Homo sapiens: one gene and its partner. The protein of the gene in region 1 purifies or fractionates together with the protein of each later gene. This does not show direct contact. Each region holds a gene or a part of one and is shown on either strand. Other genes may lie near its edges.

Region 1 (3,817 bases):
TTAGAAGATTCTTTGATGGGATTTGGCCTACTGAAGAGGTGTATCTCTGTCTGACTAGGCTGTAAAATCTCCAAGGTTTGAGATGCTCAGGCTTTCTTTCTACCTTTTCCCCATTTCCCTTCCTACATTTTAGTTTGGATTTGGGAGGTCTGAGGACACTGTCCATCCCAGTTTCTCATTTTGCTTTCAGAGATTTTGCTATACAAATCTCCTTGTGTGTGTCCATTTGGTGTGAAGGTTATATATGTTCTGGTGGTTGTGTGTGAAGGGTCACAGGATTCAAGTTCCACCATCTCCCTTCTCCACAGGAACCATCATCCTGGACTGTGTCAACATGGACCTTAAAATTGGAAAGGCAACCCCAAAGGACAGCAAATATGTGGAGAAACTAGAGGCCCTTTTCCCAGACCTACCCAAGAGAAATGATATATTTGATTCCCTACAAAAGGCAAAGTTTGATGTATCAGGTATGAAATGTTAGCTGACTTTTCTGCCTCCCAGATAAGAAAACAGAAAGGCAAGCCTTGTTCATTATATTATTTTTTTTTTTTTGAGACAGAGTCTTGCTCTGCCACCCAGGCTAGAGTGCAGTGGCACAATCTTGGCACACTGCAACCTCGACCTCCTGGGTTCAAGCGATTCTCCTGCCTCAGCCTCCCGAGTAGCTGGGATTACAGGCGCCCACCACCACGCCCAGCTAATTTTGGTATTTTTAGTAAAGATCGGGTTTCACCATGTTGACCAGGCTGGTCTTGAACTCTGAAGCTCAGGTGATCTGCCCGCCTGGGCCTCCCAAAGTGCTGGGATTACAGGCATGAGCCACCGCGCCTGGCCAATTATTTAAATTTTATACCAGAAAGAAATGAAGTACCATATTAGCCTAAGCATGAAATAATCAGTCATTTACTGGATTGTTCTATCCTGGCTCTTGGTTAGGATGAGGAGGAATGTATTAAGAGCCTCAGAAGGGCCAGACGCAGTGGCTCACGCCTGTAATCCCAACACTTTGGGAGGCCGAGGTGGGCAGATCACCTGAGGTCAGGAGTTCAAGACCAGCCTAGCTAACATGGTGAAACTCCGTTTCTACTAAAAATACGAAAAATTAGCTGAGCGTGGTGGTGTGTGCCTGTAATCCCATCTACTCAGGAGGCTGAGGCAGGAAAATCGCTTGAACCCGGGAAGTGGAGGTTGCAGTGAGCCGAGATTGCGCCATTGTACTCCAGCTTGGGCAACGACAGCGAAACTCCGTCTCAAAAAAAAACAAAAAGAGCCTCATAGGTTCCAGTCTATTCAGAGAATACAGGACATATATATAAAATATGCTGAGAGTATACTAAATTATCAGAGTGAAATCTATAGAATTGGTTAGGGAGGCAAAAGAAATATTTTGTGAGTAAACAAAAGATGAAGAGAACCCAAAAAAAACTGTATTCTTGTACTCAGCTACCACCTGTTGACATAAAAAGGAAGAAAGAAAGAAAGAACTCACATGTAAACAGTATAGGAAGAGGGAAAGATAAAAAGTAAAAGCCTCTGTTCTGGGTTTCATCCTTCTCTCCAAAGTTACTTGCTCTAAAGGTACCTATTGTCACCAGTTATTTAAGATGGCTTTTGATTATGTGATTACATTTTCTTTCTTTCTTTTTTTTTTTTTTTTTTGAGACAGAGTCCAGGTTCAAGTGATTCTCCTGCTTCAGCCTCCTGAGTAGCTGGGATTACAAGTGCCCGCCACCACACCCAGCTAATTCTTTGTATTTTTAGTAGAGACAGAGTTTCATCATGTTGACCAGGCTGGTCCCAAACTCCTGACCTCAGGTGATCCGCCCACCTCAGCCTCCCAAAGTGCTGGGATTACAGGCCTGAGTCACCGCGCCCGGCTATGATTACATTTTCAATTATCTCCCCCATTCATTGCCCCAAAGAGAGGCTGTTTTTCCTTCCTTGACCCATCTGGCTGTCCTTGCCTTCTTGGTCTTGGGACCCTGGCCTACCCTGTTTGACCCCTAGTCTCTCATCTGCTTTCTAGGACTGACCACTGAGCAGATGCTGAGAAAAGACCAGAAGACTATCTATAGACAAGGCGTCAAGGTGGCCATTAGTGCAATATATATGGATTTGGAGGTAAGAGCAAGTTGTGGCTGTGGGTGGGGAGAGAAAGCCTTTAGCTATGCATGTTATGCATGTGGCCTTGCACCTCATTCCTGGCTCACCTCCAAAATGTATCTTGTGTCTATCTTTGTCTCTACCTCCACTGTGACCACCAGAGTCCAGCATCTCTCACTGCACCGCTGTATTAGCCTCAGTACTGGTGTCCCTGCCTCTGCTTTTGCAGCCCTACAAACCATTCTCCCCGCAGCAGCCAGAGTGGTCTTTTTTAATTTTTTTTTTTTTTTTTTAAGGGAGTCATGCTTTGTTGCCAGGCTAGAGTACAGTGGTACCATCATGGCTCACTGCAGCCTCAACCTTCCAGGCTCAAGCAATCCTCCCACCTTAGCCTCTCGAGTAGCTGGGTCCACAGGTGCACACCACCACACCTAACTAGTGTGTGTGTGTGTGTGTGTGTGTGTGTGTGTGTGCGCGCGCGTGTATGTATGTGTCGATGGGGTCTCACTATGTTGCCCAGGCTGGTCTCAAACTCCTGGCCTCAAGCAGTTCTCCTTTTGGCCTCCGAAGTTCTGGGATTATAGGCGTGAGCCACTGTGCCCGGCCTCATTGTATTTTTAATAAAATCTAAAGGACTTACTGTGGTTTACAGCGCCATGCTTGATCTGGCCCTTGTCTTTTTCTCTGGCCTCATCTCATTCCAGCTCCACTCCTGTTCTACAGTACTGCAGCCACACTGGTTTCTTTTCTGTTCCTCAGAACCATTAAGCTCATTCCCAGCTGAGCTTTTTTCTTTGTAAAGCTGGCTCCTTCTTAACATTCAGGTACTCAGCTCAGATGTCTCTTGTTTTGGGAGGTTTTTCCTGACCACCCTAACTGAAGTACTATCTCCTATGCTCAAAAAACCTCTAGCAGTTATGTATGTATGTTTGTTTGTTTGTTTGTTTTGAGCCTGAGTCTTATTCTGTTGCCCAGGATGGAGTGGAATGGCATGATCTCAGCTCACTGCAACCTCTGCCTCCCGGGTTCAAGTAATTCTCCTGCCTCAGCCTCCCTAGTAGCTGGGATTACTGGTGCGTGCCGGCATGCCCAGCTAATTTTTTGTTTTGTTTTGTTTTGTTTTTGTTTTTTGAGACGGAGTTTCGCTCTTGTCCCCCAGGCTGGAGTGCAATGGCGCAATCTCAGCTCACTGCAACTTCCGCCTCCCTGGTTCAAGCGATTCTCCTGCCTCAGCCTCCTGAGTAGCTGGGATTACAGGCATATGCCCCCATGCCCGGCTAATTTTTGTATTTTTACCAGAGACAGGGTTTCACCATGTTGGCTAGGCTGGTCTCGAACTCCTGACCTCAAGTGATCACCTGCCTCGGCCTCCCAAAGTGCTAGGATTATAGGCGTAAGCGACCGTGCCCGGCCCAAGGATGTTTTATTGATGATGATGAGAAAGTCCTTCATCCCTCTCCGTTTCTTCCCTTTCAGGCCTTTCTGCAGAGGTCTAACCTCCTTGCAGATCTCCATGCTTTCTGCCAGGCTCACAGCTATGATGTCCTGGTTGCCATGACTATCTTTTTCAACACTCACAATGAGCCAGTGCGGCAGTTGGCTATTTTCTGTCCCCATGTGGCACTCCAAACAACGGTGAGTCTGTGTCCCTTCTCCAACCTAAGAGCCTTACAGAGTCTGCCTGTATGTACCTCTGTGCTCTACAGCTGTCCTA
Region 2 (3,817 bases), on another chromosome or scaffold:
ATTATAATTTATTAAAATTTTGCATGATCACAGATGGTGCTATGCAGGTTGTGATCCAGAATTTGAGCCTGTTTCCTGTATCTCTTCCAAGCATGTGTTTCATACACTCATTTGTACATAACTTTTCTTGAGGATCTACTATGGATTGGGTACCATATTAGATGCTGGGGGATTCTGTGAACAAGACACAGTTCCAGCTATCAAGGGCACTCATTCTTTCTGAATACTTCCTTAACTCTGCCTACTCTAGGATAACAAACTGGGAAGATGCTCAGGCAGGCACCCTTGAGGATCGGGTGGAAAACAAGTGGTCTAGCAGGGAGAGCTCATATCCTGTTCTGAGCAGGATAAAGTGCTGAAAGGACTGTGGACTTTGGAGCGAAAGCTAGGTTGGAAGCTGGGCTTCATCACTTATGACTTAATTTTGGGAAATGTAGTTAGCATTAGATGTTCAACGTTCTTCATCTATAAAATGACAGCTATGAAGGACATAAGCTTGACAAGAACAGAGACTTGGTCTACTTTGTTCATTACTCTTTCTCCAGCACATTCTACACAGCAGGCACTCAATATTTACTTATACATTTCTATCTGCTTATTTGCTTTATTACATAATTATTTTTGTTTGTTTATTTATTTACTTATTTTTAGACAGAGTCTCGCTCTGTTGCCCAGGCTGGAGTGCAATGGTGTGATCTTGGCTCACTGCAACCTCCGCCTCCCGGGTTCAAGCGATTCTCCTGCCTCAGCAACCTGAGTAGCTGGGATTACAGGCCACCACGCCCGGCTATTTTTTTTTTTTTTTTTTTTTGTATTTTTAGTACAGACGGGGTTTTACCATGTTGATCAGGCTGGTCTTGAACTCCTGACCTTGTGATCGGCCCGCCTCGGCCTCCCAAAATGCTGGGATTACAGGCGTGAGTCACCGCGCCTGGCTATTTATGTTTATTTTAATGGGAATTTTCTGACATGAATTATTATGACTGAAAAAACAGGTACCCAGTAAATGCTTGCCCCTTTTGCTTTTCACCCCACTCCCAGCACTCTGCATGCACTCTGCACTCTATGCGGGAAAGTCCCTGTTACTCCTGGGGAGGGACTGGGGGCTGCTGTAGACATCCCTATGAAAAGCCTGTCCGTTTCTCATCACAGTTACCTTTGTTAGGCTGCCGTCTTCCTGGCATAGCTGACACAACTGTGGCTTTTCAGAGAGCAGCAGCTGATCCTAAACCACACAGGGAGCTGGTTAGTTTTTCTTAGTGCCAGAAATATTAGTACTTTCAGAATATGCATTTTTTACCTACAATATTAATATAATCACACTATAGACTATCTGGAAACTAAACCAATTATAAATAGGTAGTCCTACCACCATAATACAACTCGGATAATCCTATCATTATGCTTCCAGCTCTTAATTTTTATAATAACATGATTTCTAAAAAGAAAATTCAAACACATGCAAGTATAGAGTAAAAAGTTTTAACACTATCCCATTCCTCTTGTTCACTCTACCATCAAGAATGGAAAGCACTGGGGACTGGGCCTGGTGGCTCACGCCTGTAATGCCAGCACTTTGGGAGGCCAAGGCAGGTAGATCACTTGAGGTCAGGAGTTCAAGACCAGCCTGGCCAACATGGCAAAACTCCATCTCTACCAAAAATATATATATTAAAAAAAAAAAAAGTTGGACATGGTGGTGGGCGCCTGTAATCCCAGCTACTCGGGAGGCTGAGGCAGGGGAATCACTTGAACCTGGGAGGCGGAGGTTGCAGTGAGCTGAGATTGTGCCACAACACTCCACCCTGGGTGACAGAGTGAGACTCTGTCTCAAAAAAAAAAGGAAAAAAAGAATGGCAAGCATAGGGCATGGAAGCTCACACCTGTAATCCCAGCACTTTGGGAGGCCAAGGCGGGAAGATCACTTGAGCCCAGGAGTTTGAGACCAGCCTGGGCAACACGGTGAAACCTAATCTCTGCAGCCCTAGCTACTCGGGAGGCAGAAGTGGGAGGACTGCCTAAGCTCGGGAAGTTGAGGCTTCAGTGAGCTGAGATCGTCCACTGCACCCCAGCTTGGGCAATGTGAGTAAGACCTTATCTCCATTTAAAAAAAAAAAAAGGAAAGCAGTAGGACTTATTTTATTTTATAACCTAAGAGGTAAATGACAGGGTGACTCAGACACAGTAGCATTCACTGTCTTTCTCATGGGCTTATCATATACTATTAGATTAACAAAGTGTTTTACAATCATTTATGTTAGCTTATTTCTAAGTGATCAAAACATCTTTTTTCTCTCCATTTTATGTAAGGAAAAACTAGAGGAAAGGGACATAAAGTGAGCTCTCCTAGATCTTATGTCAGGGATAATTTAAAATAGGTGAGAACTGATGTTTACTTAGTAAACTGCTCAAAGCTGTGCTACTTCCTGTGTGAGCTTCAGGCAATACATATTTGTTCAGGGTATTGTTAGAAGGATGGCACACTGTATTCACTCATCTTCCGCCCATGCTACCTTATTTGCTGGCTAGGCACGGTACAACCAACTTCATAATTCATACAAGATGTTTTGAAACAGGAGGCTCTGTTACCTGTTCATCCATAGGGTGGGGTTGCAGCCTACAATGGAGAAGTAAAAAATTGTGACAAATAGGAACTTCATGTATTTTCATTTATATCATTTCAATAAAAAGCTCAGAATACAAACATTTTTTTCAAACAAGAAATACTGTAGGTCTTTTATATTACTTAGAACAACATAATTATTAATTTTGACCTCCAAGGAGAGGAAACTTTGCTTCTTAAAATGAATCACTAGAATCTGACCCTTGACTTATTATATAAGGGTTCCCATTTAAAAATAGATTTGAAGTTATATTTTACATTCCTTTTTGCTATCAAAATAGTTAGCATTTATGTTTCCCAATGTGTAAAACTCCAATGGTTCACTGGCCATATATTTTAGTAGCTTTTTTTCTATTTGATATTATGGAAATCTATCCATTATCCATTATCACATGTTGTGTATCAGTCCCAAATATTCTTAAGATGTGAGCTTTAGCAAATTAACCCAAGAAGGGGAAATGAATGAGACTGTCACCAGAAAACCCATTCAGGTTGAAATATTTCTTCATGAGGGACTAAGCTGAGCTAACTCCGATGTTCCAGCATGGACTAGAGCCTAAATGAGAGGTGAAGCAAAGCCCGCTCTCGGTTACAGGGAAAATGCACTACAGATTGCAATGGTTCTTATTCTTTTCACTTGAGTAGCAGTGTGACCACCAGACATACACCATGGGGTGACCAGGTTTTCCGATGTTCCTTGCCATCATAATCCCAGGAAGCCTGGTATGTCTAACGATTGCAGCTATGGCCAGAATAAGTCCTGGAAGTTGCTAATAGGTAGTGCAGAGCCAAAGGACTTAAAAACAGTAGACATGATAAACAGAGGCAACTTGGATAAGTCACCCAGCCTCTCTGCTTCTCAGTTTTCTCATCTGTAAAGTTGCATTAGGTACTTTTGTAAGGAATACTGAATCATAAGGAGATAATAAATGTGAAACAAATTCTAAGTTGCAGAGCACAATTCAGATATAAGGAAGCACTGTTCCATATTCTCAGGACCTAAATCAGAAGTTGGCATTTAAGACACTCCTGGTTGCTCAAGTAAATGATTTGATTTTAGTTTGGAACGAGGCTGACCCTGAAAGGCACCTGGAAGCCCAGGTTAATTTTATGGCCCTTCTAGTTCCCTTCTCTTTGCTTATGCCATTCTGTAATGTGAGATGGGTGATAGTTTAAAGTTAGCTCTGGATCAAA

What was found.
Region 2: the proteins of PRUNE1 (region 1) and RUFY3 purify together in Homo sapiens (affinity purification with mass spectrometry; one large-scale study listed by BioGRID and IntAct). This does not show direct contact.

What each region holds. Positions count from the first base shown.
Region 1 is NC_000001.11:151,025,207-151,029,023, forward strand, and holds part of PRUNE1 (exopolyphosphatase PRUNE1), read left to right. Parts: intron 1-308; coding exon 309-467; intron 468-2,026; coding exon 2,027-2,121; intron 2,122-3,579; coding exon 3,580-3,738; intron 3,739-3,817. UniProt on the Homo sapiens protein: Phosphodiesterase (PDE) that has higher activity toward cAMP than cGMP, as substrate. Plays a role in cell proliferation, migration and differentiation, and acts as a negative regulator of NME1. Plays a role in the regulation of neurogenesis.
Region 2 is NC_000004.12:70,801,756-70,805,572, reverse strand, and holds part of RUFY3 (protein RUFY3), read right to left. Parts: intron 2,618-3,817; coding exon 2,590-2,617; exon of another isoform or gene 2,589-2,589; intron 1,226-2,588; coding exon 1,157-1,225; exon of another isoform or gene 1,155-1,156; intron 1-1,154. UniProt on the Homo sapiens protein: ARL8 effector that promotes the coupling of endolysosomes to dynein-dynactin for retrograde transport along microtubules. Acts by binding both GTP-bound ARL8 and dynein-dynactin.